3 linked regions of the Homo sapiens genome follow. The protein of the gene in region 1 purifies or fractionates together with the protein of each later gene. This does not show direct contact. Each region holds a gene or a part of one and is shown in the gene's direction. Other genes may lie near its edges.

Region 1 (7,048 bases):
AGTTTCTGAGCAAGAAGAAAAGGAATTTGCTTGAAACTAAACTTTTTTTTGTTATTAGGAATATTAATGCAAAAATGCCGTAATAAAGTCATGAAAAACTATGGAAGATACTATATTGCTGCGTCCTATGTAAAGTACTTGGAGTCTGCAGGTGCGAGAGTTGTACCAGTAAGGTATGATTCAGTGTTTTTTTTTTTTTTTTACTCTGTATAAAAAATTGCTGCGTACGGGTGCGGTGCCTCATGCCTGTAATTCTAGCACTTTGGGAGGCCAAGGCGGGTGGACTACTGAGGTCAGGAGTTCGAGACCAGCCAGGCCAACCTGGTGAAGCCCTGTCTCTACTAAAAATACAAAAATTAGCTGGGTGCAGTAGTGCACTCCTGTAATCCCAGCTACTGGGGAGGCTGAGGCAGGAGAATCGCTTGAACCAGGGAGGTGGAGGTTGCAGTGAGTTGAGATCGCACCACTGCACTCCAGTTTGGGCAACAGATCGAGACTCCATCTCAAAATAATAATTACTGCCTAATATCTCTAAAATTCGTGCTTTCTCTCTTATGATTACATTGTTTAAATGCAGTAACATTGCACCTGATTTTTGACACAAACATGTTGCTTAGAGTCTCTCATTGAATTGTTTAATGTGGGAAGCTGTGTGTTACCTGTAACGTCATTAGAGGTACCATATGTCATATGCATTAACATCAAGAATGAAATGATAGTTTCCTTTATCCCAGAAAAGGTGGTTCTCACAGACACTATGAAGGTAATGGAGTAAAATAATCTAAAGTGGTTGGGGGGGCGGGGTGAGGGATAAAAAATTACATATTGGGTACAGTGTACATTGCTCGGGTGGCTGGTTCATTGAAATCTCAGACTTCATCACTATACAGTTCATGCATGTAACCAAAAACCATTTTTACCCCAAAGGCTATTGAAATAAGAAAAAAATTTTAATGAATCTACAATTTAACCAGCTTTGTTCTATAATATTAGGATAAGAGAACAGTTAGGGAATGAAGGAGGTTTTTAGAAGATGACTTTTAAAATACCTTCACACTCTACTTTAAAAGTTTGTAAATTACCAGTGCATTAGGGTTGCTTCAGTGTGGATTATAGGTATTGCAGTTTTAAAGGCACTGCATTATTTTTGTGATAAAATGTTCCTATAAGAATAAAATGATTCATCTCATTTTCATTTAGAACTGAATTCTTCCCATATTTTTCATCTGGAAGGAGCTAACAACCAGAATCTTATAAGGATTTGTAATGTCTTGTCAGCTAAAATTAATGTATTTTAGAATCTTTGAGCACCTCATCTAATCCATTTTGAGTGATTTCACACATAAAACACTATTTATTCTGTACAGCCTGTTTTTGCAAACAATTCCTCATCAAAAATTATAACAAAAATACTGTTCAAATATAATACTACTAATAAAATGCAAATATTACAATTTAGAGAATTGTACCACAAAATGGCTTTAGGTTTAGATTTATAAGAATTGTCTTCTTGTATGATCTTTTACATTTAAATTAACTGTTTCTACACCAAGATTGCCATTTGCTTTTGATATTAGTCTTTAATATTTTAGTAGCCTATCTAATTTTTCAAACGAAATTTTATTTGAAGCCCATATAACGCCAGAGTTTTAGAGCTGAGGAAGAGGCTCCAGAGAGTCTTCAGAACAGTGTTTCAAAGTTTTCATCAGGGAAACTTTTTAATGCAAGCTGTTCTTCTGGGATGTTAGTGCTGACCGTGTGGATGGGAGATATATATAAAAATATATATATATTTTTATATATATTATATATATATATAAGGAGAGACATATATATATATATATAAGGAGAGACAAAAGGCAGAGCAGCCATAAAAAAGAATGAAATCATATCCTTTGCTGCAATGTGAATGCAGCTGGAGGCCCAAGTGAATTAATGCAGAAACAGAAAACCAAATACCACATATTCTCACTTATAAGTGGGAGCTAAACATTGGGTACACATGGACCCAAAGATGGCAGCAATAGATGCTGGCGGCTACTAGAGGAGGAGGGCAATAAGGGCTGAAAAACTACCTATTGGATACTGTGCTCACTACCTGGGTGACAGGATCATTTGTACCCCAAACCTCAGCATCACACAATATACCCATGTAGCAAATCTGCACATGTACCCTCTGAATCTAAAATAAAAGTTAAAATTATAAAAAATAAATGAAGTAAAATCATAACTGAAAGAGGAGACATTACAACTAATGCTACAGAAATAAAAAGGTTCATAAAAGACTACTTAAACTATATGCCAACAACATGTGTAACCTAGAAGAAATGAATAAATTGTTAGAAACACACAGTCTACCAAGACTGAATCATAAAGAAATAGGTAACAAACCTGTCACTGGTGGAGAGATTGAAATGGTAATCAAGAGCCTCTCAACACAGAAAAGCCCAAGACCAGCTGGCTTCACTGGTGAATTCTACCAAACATCTAAAGCAGAATTGATACCAGTCCTTCTCAAACTCATCCAAAAAATTGAAGACAGTACAATTCCAAGAATGAACCCCAGTGTAAACTAGGTCTTGGGCAATTATGATGTGTCAGTGTATTTTTATCAACTGTTACAGTGTACCACCCAAGATGTTAATGGAGGAAGCTATACATGTTTTGGGGCAGGGGTTATAAAGGAAATACTTAACCTTCTCTTAATTTTGCTGTGAACCTGAAATTACTCTAAAAAATAAAGTCTTTAAAAAAATAAAACAAAATGCCTAAAGGCAGGTAGACCAGTTTAGAGGTAGTTGCAGTAGTCTAGGTGTGAAGTGTTGAGGGCTTGGCTTACACTGGTGGTGTGGGAATGATAGGTAAGTGTTGTTTAAAAAAATCACCAGTACATGATGACTAATAAAAGGGCACAGGGAGGAAGAAATATATAAGGATGATGGAAGTTTTGAAATCATGGGAGTTTTGAAAGTGGATGACTTTGCAGAATATTGGTATTTATGAGAGATGCTGAGAACACGACTGTCAGCATACAGGTTTATTTCCAAATTGGGTTCTCAGAGTTCACTTAAGGTATATTGGAATCATGTGATCTTGTAGAAACAGTGTAATACATATGGGGTGAGTTCATAGACTAGCCTGTGAAGGATTACCTGATGCAAAATAAGACTGGATCATGATGATGTTAGGTTCATTTCTGAATTTTGGATGCTGGGAGTCAACTTCTGTGGTTTAGAAGTGAAAAGGAAGAGATGGGAGACCTGGGAAGCATTCTGAAATAGATGCAGAAATTTGTCTTTGGTTTCCTTCTGCCTTCTTTCTGCCCCTTCTGTCTCAGGCGCTTGGTGCTCTCAGGTTGTCATAAATGCCCAATGTGGGACTAGTGGAAAAGAGAATGTCCTGCTTCCTCAGAGGTAGCATACAGGAGCCCATGGACTGCTGCTTTTGGTTTAAAAACGTGTTTTGTTCACACAGCGTTTTAAAACATGAATCAGGCTGGGCGCGGTGGCTCACGTCTATTATCCCAGCACTTTGGGAGGCTGAGGTGGGAAGATCGCTTAAGTTCATGAGTTTGAGACCAGCTTGGGCAACATGGAAAAACCCCTATCTATAAAAAATTTTTAAAAAATGAGCTGGGAGTGGTGGCGTGCACCTATGGGCCCAGCTACTCAGGAGGCTGAGGTGGGAGGATCACTTGAGCCCAGGAGGTGGAGGTTACAGTGAGCTGAGATGGCGCTACTGCACTCCAGCCTGGGTGACAGAGCCAGACCTTTCTCAAAAAAACCCCAAAGACCACAAATCAAACTTTATAAGAGTCTGAATTTTTGTTTCTTTTGAAGACAGTTATCTAGATTGAGTTTTAAATGGGGCAAACACTCCCCATTGGCAACAATGCCTTACCATCCTTTTCATGCTGCTAAAGCTGTGTGTCATTTGCCATCATCACCAGGCTTAAGCCATTTCGTTACAGTTAAGGAGAGAGTAAACTGTTCCTCATACCTTGTTGAAAGGGACTTTTGTTTCAAAAAATGTCTGACAACATGCAACTAACAGCTGTATTCTCTGCCAGGGCCCCTAGGCACCAGAGTTGTGACATGGCACACTCCTTCCCCTGTGACAATTAGGTCTCTTAATAGAGATAAATGGGGACCAAAACTATAGTCATGGACAGTGTGGGAGCCATTTATTTAGAATTAATGAAATGACTGAAACTAGCTTGCACCGCTAGCTGGCAGGAATCCTTGGAGTGCAGCTGTGTGATCTAAATCCATTTTGGTCCCTGATGGCGATGGTTGCCCATTTTGGTTTAAATATCCATGGGGAGAATTCTGGGTCCTGACTGGCTGGTTCCTTTTTGTTGCCACAATCTGGGGAGATTAGACTGGCAGAATACTGGGTACATGTATATTGATATTTCACCTCCCTATCACTTCCCAAGGCAGGGCTACCTGTCAGTATTTTCTCCACTTAAGAATGGTAAGCACCATTCTGGTATCACCCATTGCTTTGTGGCTCTCGCCAGGAAGAGATTACTATGAACTTGTGAGAGACCTGGACTTGCAAAGCTTGTTTGGACTTAGAGTAGATCCCAGAGTTGTTTGCTGGCAAAACACAGCCTGTGTTCTGGATATCACAGGTGTCTAGTTAATAATGGGTGTGAGGGACTTTACCTCCCCCTAAAACTTCTTTGAGGGCAGAAATGGACTAGTTGACATCTAATCATAAGTCTACTTCTTTTAGGGCAGGTTGAGAGGACAGGTACCATTTATTCTGTCACAGAAACAGAAGGCTGCTAAATGTGGGAGAGTTCTTGCAAGGATTTCACTAACTTGGTGCTCTCTTCCCTTATTGTTGCATTTTATTGAACTTTCGGGAGAGCAGATATCTGTGACTTAGTAAATGTTGTCACCATATGTCACAGATTAAGCCCATCTTTTTTTTCTGGAGAAAGGGAATAAAGTCACCAATAACATGGCGATTGTTAGGAGGCCCTTAAGGGGTGTTTGATCAAGGGTCTTTCAGAGTAATTACCTGGGCAGTTAGGCTGTTCTACAGTCATCTCTCTGTGGTCCTCAGTTCAGACTAGATGTGAACCATCCTGACTTTGAAATGCAGAGTAGTCCCTAGACTGTTGCAACTAGTTTGTTGGGGTGGGATCAGGCAGCGACTTGGCATTTATTTATGCATTTTTTAATCTGCCAGAGCTTCCTGTAGTTAAATAGGCATGATAAATAAAGTTATTTAAAGGAGTCTTTACATAAAACTACTGAATATTCTTACATTTCTTTTTGTAGTTCTTGGTTAGTAGAGAAATTACTGGTGGCCAAATCTCACGGTCTTTACTGTTTTTGCATACTAACACATACTTCACAATATTAAATTGCATTAGATCACAGAAAAACATATTTACTTGTCTGATTAGCAAAACAAGGATAGAATGATGTGGCTTTCAAGTGGTTTGCAAAAATGCCTCTAGAAAAGTAGAGAGGTAATATTGTCTAGTAATTAAAAATTTGTTTTTATTTGGCTTTTTAAAAGTAAATGTGGAGACTTCATTTAGAGGTTTACTTCTAAGTTTCACAAATGTAACAATAACTTTTATTGTTTTCAGGCTGGATCTTACAGAGAAAGACTATGAAATACTTTTCAAATCTATTAATGGGTAAGTTGGCAGCATTGGTTTCATACGGTATATGAGTGGTCTACATATGTCTGCTTTTGTAAAAGAAATCATATAAATATTATACATGTTTCTATGTAACTGTCTTAGAGTGGTATAGTATTAGTGTTCTGAGTTCTTTTATAGGATTTATTTTCTTGGGAGATGCAAAAGTCCTTCAAAAGAGGAAGAGGCAGGTTAGGAAATGTATAATTGTTACATAGTAGACACACATAATTTTTTTAAATGTGTGACTTAATCTTTGTTCTTTTAATGCTTGTCTTAAATGTTTTGAAGCTACCTTGAATGGCGTGGCATACTGCTTGCATATGGGGTTTATAAGTCCAAAGTCTGAGGATGTTGATTTTTTTTTTCAGGTAAATTGGGAAAAAATATTCACCATTACTCTTAATTTTAGGAAAGAAGGCTAATTACAGCAATCAAAAACATTTAATTACCATGTTGGCAGAGATCAGAAAATTTGCTTATACTCTATGGGGCCTGTGAGGAAACAAGTGTGCTCATACTTTATTAGAGGGAATGTAAATCAGGTAGTCTTTTTTGGGGTAATATTGCAATACCTATTGAAATTAGAAACACGTATACCCTTTGACCTGGGAACTTGAGGAGGAATTTTATTTTATAAATATATTCCCACCTTGCATGAAGACTTAGACTCAAATCTATGCATTGTATTAGTAGTATTGTCTGACAGTCACCCCGTAATCCATCAGGTGAGAATTGGTTAAATAAAACAGACTATGTACATTCAATAGAATACTATGCAGGAATTAAAAAATGCGGCTATCTGTAGATGCTGACTTAGATCACCATTGTCCTATGAACAATGTGATAGTGTTATGTGAAAAAGGCAAGGCACGTGATGGTGTGTATAGCATACACCCCGTTTGCTTTTTGTTAAAGGTGGGGGTGAAGAGATATGCATATTTCTACCAAATCAACACAGCAGATTTTAATGGCAGTTGTTTCTGATTGGGAATAGGGTGGAAGTATTTTACTGTAAAATGTTTTTTTAAAAGAGCTTTATTATTTTTACTTCTAAAACCATGTTAATTTATTGTTTCTTTTAAAAAGCTATGTTTAGAAAATTATTTGCCTTCAGTTCAGTTTGGTTCAGTAAATATTTACCATAAAATCAGTTCAATTTAGTAAAACATTTACAATGCCCAGTATGTGCTGTGTGCAAGGTACTTTGGCATGGACAAAGATCATTAAGTCTAGGCTAGAATATAATAGTAGAACCTCAAAAATAGACCTTTTGAAACACTTCATTTTCTTCCCACCCTCTCCCCAGTTGCATTCCTGTTTGGAGAGGAATCTGAATCAAGTAGCAGTGTAGACAGGAATACATACTTTGGGGAGCTAGCC
Region 2 (3,974 bases), on another chromosome or scaffold:
CCCCGACCATGTGTCTCTGTTGAAACCCCAACTGTCTTTCTCCCCACTCCCTACCCACCCAGGGGAAGCCAAATATAGGCCAAGAGCAGCCTGTGGATGATGCTGCAGAAGTCCCTCAGAGGGAACCAGAGAAGGAAAGGGGTGATCCAGAACGGCAGAGAGAGATGGAAGAAGAGGAGGATGAGGATGAGGATGAGGATGAAGATGAGGATGAACGGCAGTTACTGGGAGAATTTGAGAAGGAACTGGAAGGGATCCTGCTTCCGTCAGACCGAGACCGGCTCCGTTCGGAGGTGAAGGCTGGCATGGAGCGGGAACTGGAAAACATCATCCAGGAGGCAAGCCCAGCTCTTCCTCCTGTTGCTTCCACAGCCGCCTGGTCCCGTGGAGCAGGACAGGCTGACGGGCTAAAAGAAACAGAGGGCACAGCACAGGGCAAGGACGGGGCACTTGGAAGTGGTAGCTGTTTCCCTAATTAATCGGGGCTGTTGGGGAAGGGGGACCAGAGAGAGGGACAAGACTTAAATATCAGACTCTCTGGCCAGGCGCGGTGGCTCACGCCTGTAATCCCAGCACTTTGGGAGGCCGAGGTGAGCGGATCACCTGAGGTCAGGAGTTCAAGACCAGCCTGGCCAACATGGCGAAACCCTCTCTACTAAAAATGCAAACAAATTGGCCAGGCATGGCAGTGGGTACCTGTAATCCCAGCTCTTTGGAAGGCTGAGGCAAGAGAATCGCTCGAACCCGGGAGGCGGAGGTTGCAGTGAGCCGAGACGGCACCACTGTACTCCAGCCTGGGTGATAAGCAAAACTCCATTTCAAAATATCAGACTCTCCTACAGAGCCCAGCCCGCTGGCTGCCTCCACACCCCAGACCCTTGACTCACTCTCTTCTCTTGGGTATTCCAGACAGAGAAAGAGCTGGACCCAGATGGGCTGAAGAAGGAGTCAGAGCGGGATCGGGCAATGCTGGCTCTCACATCCACTCTCAACAAACTCATCAAAAGACTGGAGGAAAAACAGAGTCCAGAGCTGGTGAAGAAGCACAAGAAAAAGAGGGTTGTCCCCAAAAAGCCTCCCCCATCACCCCAACCTACAGGTGAGAGCAGTCAGACAAGAAAGAGTAGCCCAGTCTGTTGTTTTCATCCCTCAGCTGGTTCTGTTCCCAGAGGGGACCCTGTTCCTTCCCTTCTGAGGGTGCTCATTCTCTCCCCACTTTCTGGAACACTGTCCTCACTTGCGCCTGCTTCCCAACACCATCATCCCTTTGCGTGTTTACCTCCTATTCATCCCTCTGGGAAGCAGCTTTTAGAGCATATCTGCTGGTTTTCTGGTTTGCTCCTGTACACCCAGTGCCTAGCACTCTGCCTGGCACACAATGGATGATCAGTAGCTAGTAATTGAATGCTTGTGAGTCTATATGCTGAAAACCACTTTAGGACTTTGCACCAAGAGAGGCCCCAGCTGTCAGGGCATGAATAGGAGAGCCCAGCTGCACATGAGCCAATAGCTTGGATAGACTTTAAATTATTTCTTCTTCTTGTATCCCCTTGTGTCCATTTCATAGTGTCCTATGGGTGTGGACATCAGATATTCTAAATGGAATGTTCCAGTTTCAAACCTTCCATTCCCACTCTCTCTATAAACATTGAAATGTCTTTAAAGTCCCAACATATGGAGGAGGAGACCACACTTTTCCAACCTGCTTCTTCAAACAGAACTTTGTTGGTGCAGGTGGCCTGATTTTGGCTTTAGAAAACATTTGTTTTCCTATAGGTGACGGGCAGAATTATTGGGTAGGGCGGGAAGATGGAAGGCTGCAATTGGTGGAGGGAGCTCTACAGGCTGAACTGGGAGGGGCGGGGCACACATTTTTTTGAGCCCTGGCTCATATACATGTTGAGATGGAAGAGCTGCCAAAGCCAACTGATGTTTTAGGGGGAGATGACCCCCACACCCCTAACCCTGGAGTCACGCCTCTGCTTTGTGTTTCCCTGTGTGTCTCCCCCTCTAAGAGGAGGATCCTGAGCACAGAGTCCGGGTCCGGGTCACCAAGCTCCGTCTCGGAGGCCCTAATCAGGATCTGACTGTCCTCGAGATGAAACGGGAAAACCCACAGCTGAAACAAATCGAGGGGCTGGTGAAGGAGCTGCTGGAGAGGGAGGGACTCACAGCTGCAGGTGGGCCCTGGAGGGCGGCTGGACCCAGTGCTGTCGGAAGGGCAAGCTGCCGGAAGTGGAGGGGCTGGGACCAGTGGGGCAGGGGGCCTGCCCTGAGGCTCCCAACCATCCTCTCCTCTCACTGCATACTGCTCCTTTCCAGGGAAAATTGAGATCAAAATTGTCCGCCCATGGGCTGAAGGGACTGAAGAGGGTGCACGTTGGCTGACTGATGAGGACACGAGAAACCTCAAGGAGATCTTCTTCAATATCTTGGTAAGAGGCTTCTACCCCCGAGTCCTGGCCCCCAGCCCTCCTGGAGTGGAGGTGCGGGCTTGCCCCAGCCACGCCATTGCTGAGCTTCCATTTCCTGATCTGTAAGACAAGGCTGGGGTTCCAGTGGCTCAGAGTGCTGCCATGCAGGAAGAGCCCCTCAGGACATGGGTGTCCTCATTCCCTGCCTTCCCCCAGCTGCCTGGCCCAGGACTTCCCTGGGCTCAACGGCCAGTAGCTCCAGCCCACCTCTACCCTCTCCCACCAGGTGCCGGGAGCTGAAGAGGCCCAGAAGGAACGCCAGCGGCAGAAAGAGCTGGAGAGCAATTACCGCCGGGTGTGGGGCTCTCCAGGTGGGGAGGGCACAGGGGACCTGGACGAATTTGACTTCTGAGACCAACACTACACTTGACCCTTCACGGAATCCAGACTCTTCCTGGACTGGCTTGCCTCCTCCCCACCTCCCCACCCTGGAACCCCTGAGGGCCAAACAGCAGAGTGGAGCTGAGCTGTGGACCTCTCGGGCAACTCTGTGGGTGTGGGGGCCCTGGGTGAATGCTGCTGCCCCTGCTGGCAGCCACCTTGAGACCTCACCGGGCCTGTGATATTTGCTCTCCTGAACTCTCACTCAATCCTCTTCCTCTCCTCTGTGGCTTTTCCTGTTATTGTCCCCTAATGATAGGATATTCCCTGCTGCCTACCTGGAGATTCAGTAGGATCTTTTGAGTGGAGGTGGGTAGAGAGAGCAAGGAGGGCAGGACACTTAGCAGGCACTGAGCAAGCAGGCCCCCACCTGCCCTTAGTGATGTTTGGAGTCGTTTTACCCTCTTCTATTGAATTGCCTTGGGATTTCCTTCTCCCTTTCCCTGCCCACCCTGTCCCCTACAATTTGTGCTTCTGAGTTGAGGAGCCTTCACCTCTGTTGCTGAGGAAATGGTAGAATGCTGCCTATCACCTCCAGCACAATCCCAGTGAAAAAGGTGTGAAGCACCCACCATGTTCTTGAACAATCAGGTTTCTAAATAAACAACTGGACCATCAATCCATCAACCTTTTTTGTGGGGTGGGGGTTCCAGCAGGGAGAAGGCTCAGTGTTCTTTTCAGATCATGCTCTGATCCTGTTCTTTGCTCCCCATTCCCCAGGTACTATAAACGGGGGCTGGGGTATGCAGGAAGAGACCAGGGTAGCTAAACAAAGCCTGGCCTGGCAAGGATTGAAAGAAACACTTGCAATGCTGTCATCTTCCTTTTCTCATCTGTCTGTTTCTGTTCCTTCCCTTTTGCACCAAGTCTTTCCCTATTGTTTCCCCCTTTATACCCTGAAAGCCAAAATGCACACCATGGAGCTCCCCCCGGCGGGGATCTTCCTTCTGCTGTGGTCTCTCCCATATCATGCTCCAGATTCCATTTGTCATCCACACCCCTACCCACCTGTCCTTTCAACATTTTCCAAAAAGACCTCCACCTTTGGGCATGCGCAGAGAGAGGGCTGCTGCCCACACATGCCAGTTTCTTAGTATGCCCAAGGGTACATGGGCCTGG
Region 3 (7,048 bases), on another chromosome or scaffold:
TTTCTGGGCTAGAGCCCAGGGTATAAATTGAGCCTGGATCTCTGAACTAGAGCTCAGAGTAGGTGTTTGGATCCATTTTCTAAGCCAGATCCCAGATAAAGGTCTTAGATCAGTAACTCAGGTATAATCTCTGGACCCAGTCCCTGAGTCAGTGCCCCAGACTAGAGCCTTGGTCCAGAAACAGATGTACTGAGTTTGTGAGACCTCTGTAAGAGCATTCCCACTGGATCCTAGGAGCCACGCTGGGTCTCTGGCAGGACCACTCAGTGAACTCCTTGGGGGGCTGCAGCCCAGGCAGGGCTGGAGCCTGTGACGTCCCCTCCTCAAAGTTTGCAGACACAGACAACATTCTGACCAACAATCAGACTCTGCGGCTTCTCATGGGGCAGGGGCTTCCAGTGGTGGCCCCAATGCTGGACTCCCAGACCTACTACTCCAACTTCTGGTGTGGGATCACCCCCCAGGTGAGGCCGGGATGGGGGCCTTGGGTGGACTGAGGTCCTGGAAGGAGGGACGTGGAGAGCAGAGAGCCTGAGGCCTTGGGGTCTGTGGGCAGGGGCAGGGGAGCCCTCTCACAGCCCAAAGCATCCCTTTTCCCCAGGGCTACTACCGCCGCACAGCCGAGTACTTCCCCACCAAGAACCGCCAGCGCCGGGGCTGCTTCCGTGTCCCCATGGTCCACTCCACCTTCCTTGCATCCCTGCGGGCTGAAGGGGCAGACCAGCTTGCTTTCTACCCGCCACATCCCAACTACACTTGGCCTTTCGACGACATCATCGTCTTCGCCTATGCCTGCCAGGCTGCTGGTGAGGACCAGCCCTCCTTTAGCATTCCTTGGAGGCCTCTGCACATTTGCACATGCTATTCCAGCTGCTTACCATGCCCTTCCCTACTCTGCATTTCATCCTGTTAACCCATGAGTTACAACTTTGGGTCATGAGTTTTCTTTTCTCTCTCTTTTTTTTTTTTTTTGGTGTGATCTCGGCTCACTGCAAACTCTGCCTCCCGGGTTCAAATGATTTCCTGCCTCAGCTTCCCGAGTAGCTGGGATTACAGGCACCCGCCACCACACCCAGCTAATTTTTGTATTTTTAGTAGAGACGGGGTTTTGCCATGTTGGTCAGGCTGGTCTCAAAACTCCTGAGCTCAGGTGATCCACCCGCCTCGGCCTCCCAAAGTACTGGCATTACAGGTGTGAGCCACCCGCCCAGCCAGTGGTTACTTTTAAGATGAAAGGTTTTTTGTTGTTGTTGTTGTTGTTGTTTTTGGGACAGAGTCTCACTCTGTCGCCCAGGCTGGAGTGCAGTGGCCGATCTTGGCTCACTGCAAGCTCCGCCTCCCGGGTTCAAGCCATTCTCCTGCCTCAGCCTCCCGAGTAGCTGGGACTACAGGCGCCCACCACCACGCCCGGCTAATTTTTGTATTTGTAGTAGAGATGGGGTTTCACCGTGTTAACCAGGATGGTCTCGATCTCCTGACCTCGTGATCTGCCCGCCTCGGCCTCCCAAAGTGCTGGGATTACAGGCGTGAGCCACCGCGCCCAGCCAAGATGAAAGTTACTAGAAAGAGTTTGGGTATGGCCAGGCAAGGTGACTCAGACCCTAATCTCAAAGTCTTGGGAAGCTGAGGCTGGAGGGGAAATCACTTGAGCTCAGGAGTTCGAGACCAGCCTGGACAACATAGCAAGACCTCATCTCTTTTCTGCCCTTTTTTTTTTTTTGAGATGGAGTTTTGCTCTTGTTGCCCAGGCTGGAGTGCAATGGCGTGATCTTGGCTCACTGCAACCTCTGCCTTCCGGGTTCAAGCAGTTCTCCTGCCTCAGCCTCCCGAGTAGCTGGGATTACAGGCATGCACTGCCACGCCTGGGTAATTTTGTGTTTTTAGTAGAGACGGGGTTTCTCCGTGTTGGTCAGCCTCGTCTCGAACTCCTGACCTCAGGTGATCTGCCCGCCTCAGCCTCCCAAAGTGCTGAGATTACAGGCATGGGCCACTGAGCCCAGCCCAGCCTTTTTTTTTTTTTTTTTTTTTTGAGACGGAGTCTTGCTCTGTGGCTCCCAGGCTAGAGTGCAGTGGCACAATCTCAGCTCACTACAGTGTTGACCTCCCCCACCTCAGCCTCCCACGTAGCTGGGACCACAGGTGCACACCACCATGCCCAGCTAATTTTTGTATTTTTTGTAGAGATGGGGTTTTGCCGTGTTGCCCAGGCTGGTCTTGAACTCCTGGGCTCAAGTGATCTGCCCCCGCAGCCTCCCAAAGTGCTACAATTACAGGCGTGAGCCACCGCCCCCGGCTGCGAGATCCCATCTCTACAAAAAAATTTAAAAATTAACTTGGCGTGTTGGCCCACGCCTGTAGTCCCAGCTTCCTGGGAGGCTGAGGCAGGAGGATCGCTTGAGCCCAGGAGGTAGAGACTGCAGTAAACTGTGATCATGCCACTGTACTCCACCTTGGGCAACACAAGATGAGACCCTGTCTGAAAAAAAACAGAGAGTAAGAAAGTGTTTGGGTTTGGATGGAATAAATCCAGTCCTGGCCAGGTGCGGTGGCTCACGCCTGTAATCTAAGCACTTTGGGAGGCCGAGGCAGGTGGATCACGAGGTCAAGAGATTGAGACCATCTTAAGACGGTGAAACCCCGTCTCTACTAAAAATACGAAAAATTAGCCAGGCATGGTGGCGGGTGCCTATAGTCCCAGCTACTCGGGAGGCTGAGGCAGGAGAATGGTGTGAACGCAGGAGGCAGAGCTTGCAGTGAGCCGAGATCGCGCCACTGCACTCCAGCCTGGGCGACAGAGCGAGACTCTGTCTTAAAAAAAAAAAAAAATCCAGTCCTGAGGATGAGAGGGAGGGGTGGAGACACTGATGTTGGAGTGAAGCTCTTGAGAAGGCTGCAGAGAATATGTAATTCCGACCCTGAAGACTATCTGGTGCATGGAGAAGAACTTTGCAGGTGCTCAGGGTAAATTAGAGGTGACGATTTAATCAAGTAATCAGTGGCAGCCGGTAAGGAGGATGTTGTAATTCTTTGTTTTGTGCTGGAGAAGTCTGCAGTGTGCAGACATGCAAGAAGAAATCTTACCAAGTGCAAAAAGTGAGTGAAGGTGAAACAATTGGAGGGGAAAACACAAGAGGAAACAAAAGCATTCTGTTATTTTTAATTTGCTAGCCCTACTTCAAGCGACAGCCGTTGTTAATTGGTCAATGGTTTGAAGGAATTCAGTCTCTAACAGCCAGATACTACATCCCGGCTCTGGGCCAGGCTCTGTGCTCAATGCTGGGAATAGGGTTAGCTTTTATTTGTTTTTTGTTTGTTTTTTTTTAAGACAGAGCTTTGTTCTGTCGCCTAGGCTGGAGTGCAGTGGCGCGATTTTGGCTCACTGCAACCTCTGCCTCCCGGGTTCAAGTGATTCTCCTGCCTCAGCCTCCTAAGTAGATGGGATTACGGGCGGCCACCACCACAGCCGGTTAATTTTTGTATTTTTAGTAGAGATGGGGTTTCACCATGTTGGCCAGGCTGGTCTTGAACTCCTGACCTCAAATGATCTGCCTGCCTGGGCTTCCCAAAGTGCTGGGATTACAGGCGTGAGCTACTGTGCCCCGCCTAGGTTAGCTTTTTAATTGGCACTGTGTGCCTGCCCCTGAGGATAATTATAATAAAGGTAACAAATATTGGCCGGGTGCAGTGGCTCACGCCTGTAATCCCAGCACTTTGGATGGCCTAGGGTGGGTGGATCACTTCAGGCCAGGAGTTCGAGACCATCCTGGCCAACATGGCGAAACTCCGTCTCTACTAAAAATACAAAAATTAGCTGGATGTGGTGGTGCACACCTGTATTCCCAGCTACTCAGGAGGCTGAGGCAGGAGAATTGCTCAAACCTGGGAGACAGAGGTTGTAATGAGCCAAGATCGCACCATTGCACTCCAGCCTCGGTGACAGAGCAGGACTCCATCTCAAAAAAAAAAAAAAGGTAACAAATATTGAAGCCGGGGGAAGGCCACTCTGGCTGCCAGGTGAAAGACATCGTGGAGAGGAGCCCCAGAGGGTGTGAGGTGAAGTGGAGGGGTGTGGGGAAAAGGCGATGGCCCTTGGATCCAGGTGGGGTGGTGGGGATCAGGAGAGGTGGGGGGATTTAGGAGACAGAGCAGTGGGGCTCACTGGCACCCTGTGGCTGTGATGGGTAGGAGTTTGTCTGCTCCTGCCTCACCTTGATGCCCTGAGGGCAGGGACTCAGTCTTGCTCACTGCCGTAACCCTGGCTCCCAGCGGGTGCCCTGGACAGGTATATTGAATGAATGAACCATTTCAGTAGAAAGACCCCTTAGATATTGTGTGAGCCAAGCCCTTTCTCCCTCTGGTCCCACAGGTGGGGAAACTGAGTCCCAGAGAAGACTGACATGTTGGGTCACTGGCAGTGCTGGGCCTAGGACCTTTCAGCTGGGTTCTGAGAGCCCCACCCTCCACTGCAGCTCTCACTCAGCCTGTCTCTGCAGGGGTCTCCGTCCACGTGTGCAATGAGCACCGTTATGGGTACATGAATGTGCCGGTGAAATCCCACCAGGGGCTGGAAGACGAGAGGGTCAACTTCATCCACCTGATCTTAGAAGCACTAGGTGAGGGCTGGGGAACTGTTCCACCCACCTGCTGCCGGGGCTCCCTGCCTCCCCACGGTGCCCCTTTCCCTAGGCCCTGGACGGAGCGGGCATTGGCCTTGGGGTTCCAGCTTTGTCCCTAACTCGTTCCATGACTCTGAGAAAGTCCCTTTCCCTGTTGGGCCTTAGTCTAGCATCCCTACAATGGGGGCAGGTGGATCCTGTGATCTCTGAGGTCCCGTCCTGTGGGGTGTTCTGCCAAAGGGGGCAGGAATGAGGCTGGGGGCTAGGACTTCAGGGTGACTGCTAACAGGAGTCAGTAGGGACTCGTGCTTGGGGTGTGCTTCCCTTTGCAGTGGACGGCCCCCGCATGCAGGCCTCAGCTCATGTGACTCGGCCCTCTAAGAGGCCCAGCAAGATAGGGTTTGACGAGGTAAGTCCCCCAGCCTGTGGGCTCGCTGTTAGGAGGTGGATGGGCCCTCCTCTTCCGCTCCCTTGCACTTACCGCCCACCCCCCTGCCTCCTCCAGGTCTTTGTCATCAGCCTGGCTCGCAGGCCTGACCGTCGGGAACGCATGCTCGCCTCGCTCTGGGAGATGGAGATCTCTGGGAGGGTGGTGGACGCTGTGGATGGCTGGTGAGCCTGCCTGGTGGGGGGGGCCCTGTGCGCTTGGGGAAGCAGTGTGGTCCATCTCCTAGCCCGCTAGGACTGGGAAAAGCAGACAGGTTGAATGAGTTTCCTGTCCCATGTAGTATCCAAATAGGGTCTGAGTAATATCCTCTCAGGGAGTTCCGGAGCAGACACACGTGGGAGAAGATGCCCTCCTGCTGCTCACCAGAGGAGGAGAGCACAGTGGCTGAGGCTCCAGGGCCTGGGTTCCAGCTCTACCAGTTACTGAATGTGTGACCTCCAGCCAGCTACCCCCATCTCTCAGCCCGTTTGTATAAACAGCAGATAACTGTGCCCTTCTCTTAGGGTTTTGTGAGTTTAGTGAAGTTAGCCAGGGCCGGGCACATAGTTTCCAAAGGCTTAGGTGTCTCCCTTATTATTACTCTCCATCCTGGACTTGAGCTACTGATGCGTGGGGATTAGGAAAGGCCAGCCATGTTCCCCCGAGGAACCCAGAGGCTAGGCTTCTCCAGCCACCAGGGGTCCTATGGCCCCATATGTCGGCTGCCATTTGCTTCAAGTACTCAGCTCTTTTTATTTTTTTTTTAGAGACAGCGTCTCCGTCTGTTGCCCTCCGTCTGTTGCCCAGGCTGGAGTGCGGTGCCACAAACATGGCTCACTGCTGCCTTAAACTCCTGGGCTCAAGTAATCCTCCCACCTCAGCCTTCTGAGTAACTGGGACTATAGGTGTGCACTATCACATCCAGCTAATTAAAAAGAATTTTTTTTTTTTTTTGAGGCAGAGTCTCGCTCTGTCGCCCAGGCCTGGAGTGCAGTGGCGCAATCTTGGCTCACTGCAACATCCGCCTCCCAGGTTTTAAGTGATTCTCCTCCCTCACCTCCCAAGTAGCTGTGATTACAGGCTTGCATCACCACACCCGGATTAAAAAAAATGTTTTGTTTTGTTTTTTTTTCATAGAGATAGGGTCTCACTCTGTTGCCTAGGCTGGTCTTGAACTCCTGGCCTCAAGTGACCGTCCTGCCTCAGCCTCCTGAATAACGGACTACAGGCATGCACCACCATGTCCACCTAATGAAAAAAAATTTTTGACTGGGCACGGTGGCTCATGCCTGTAATCCCAGCACTCTGGGAGGTTATGGATGGATCACCTGAGGTCAGGAGTTCGAGACCAGCCTGGCCAACCAACATGGTGAAACCCCCTCTCTACTAAAAGTACAAAAATTAGCCAGGTGTGGTAGTGGGTGCCTGTAATCTCAGCTACTTGGGAGGCTGAGTCAGGAGAACTGCTGGAACCCAGGAGGCAGAGGTTGCAGTGAGCCGAGATTGTGCCATTGCACTCCAGCCTGGGCCGACAACAGTGAGACTCTGTCTCAAAAAAAATTTTTTTTTTGAGAGATGGGGTTTTTCTCTGTTGCCAAGGCTGGTCTTGAACTCCTGGCCTCAAGCAATCCTCCCACCTTGGCCTCCCAAAGCACTGGGATTACAGGTGTGAGACACCACATCCCCCGAGGTCTCTTGACCATAGGCTATCCATCCTTTGCTTGGGCCTCTGCCCAAGAAGTATCTATCATGTTCCCACATTCTTCCTAGAGTGCCTCCCCCTCAGGCAGCCCCCTACCATCCCACCCTTTCCTCAAGGGTCACCCCTGTCTTATCATATTAGGACATGTCCTAATAGTTATCCTCTCAGAACTCCCGAGGTGGCTGGGCGTGGTGGCTCATGCCTGTAATCCCAGCACTTTGGGAGGCTGAGGTGGGTGGATCACCTGAGGTCAGGAGTTCGAGACCAGCCTGGCCAACATGGTGAAACCCCATCTCTACTAAA

Evidence for each region. Proteins that work in one complex are often made in the same cells at the same time.
Region 2: the proteins of GGH (region 1) and OS9 purify together in Homo sapiens (affinity purification with mass spectrometry; 3 studies listed by BioGRID and IntAct, with this or other methods). This does not show direct contact.
Region 3: the proteins of GGH (region 1) and CERCAM purify together in Homo sapiens (affinity purification with mass spectrometry; 3 studies listed by BioGRID and IntAct, with this or other methods). This does not show direct contact.

What each region holds. Positions count from the first base shown.
Region 1 is NC_000008.11:63,028,781-63,035,828, reverse strand, and holds part of GGH (gamma-glutamyl hydrolase isoform 1 precursor), read left to right. Parts: intron 1-58; coding exon 59-173; intron 174-5,611; coding exon 5,612-5,662; intron 5,663-7,048. UniProt on the Homo sapiens protein: Hydrolyzes the polyglutamate sidechains of pteroylpolyglutamates. Progressively removes gamma-glutamyl residues from pteroylpoly-gamma-glutamate to yield pteroyl-alpha-glutamate (folic acid) and free glutamate.
Region 2 is NC_000012.12:57,718,084-57,722,057, forward strand, and holds the end of OS9 (protein OS-9 isoform 1 precursor), read left to right. Parts: intron 1-62; coding exon 63-338; intron 339-909; coding exon 910-1,099; intron 1,100-2,015; coding exon 2,016-2,180; intron 2,181-2,322; coding exon 2,323-2,435; intron 2,436-2,700; coding exon 2,701-2,826; 3' UTR 2,827-3,474; downstream 3,475-3,974. UniProt on the Homo sapiens protein: Lectin component of the HRD1 complex, which functions in endoplasmic reticulum (ER) quality control and ER-associated degradation (ERAD).
Region 3 is NC_000009.12:128,423,809-128,430,856, forward strand, and holds part of CERCAM (inactive glycosyltransferase 25 family member 3 isoform a precursor), read left to right. Parts: intron 1-329; coding exon 330-464; intron 465-601; coding exon 602-806; intron 807-4,493; coding exon 4,494-4,613; intron 4,614-4,948; coding exon 4,949-5,025; intron 5,026-5,121; coding exon 5,122-5,228; intron 5,229-7,048. UniProt on the Homo sapiens protein: Probable cell adhesion protein involved in leukocyte transmigration across the blood-brain barrier. Does not express any beta-galactosyltransferase activity in vitro.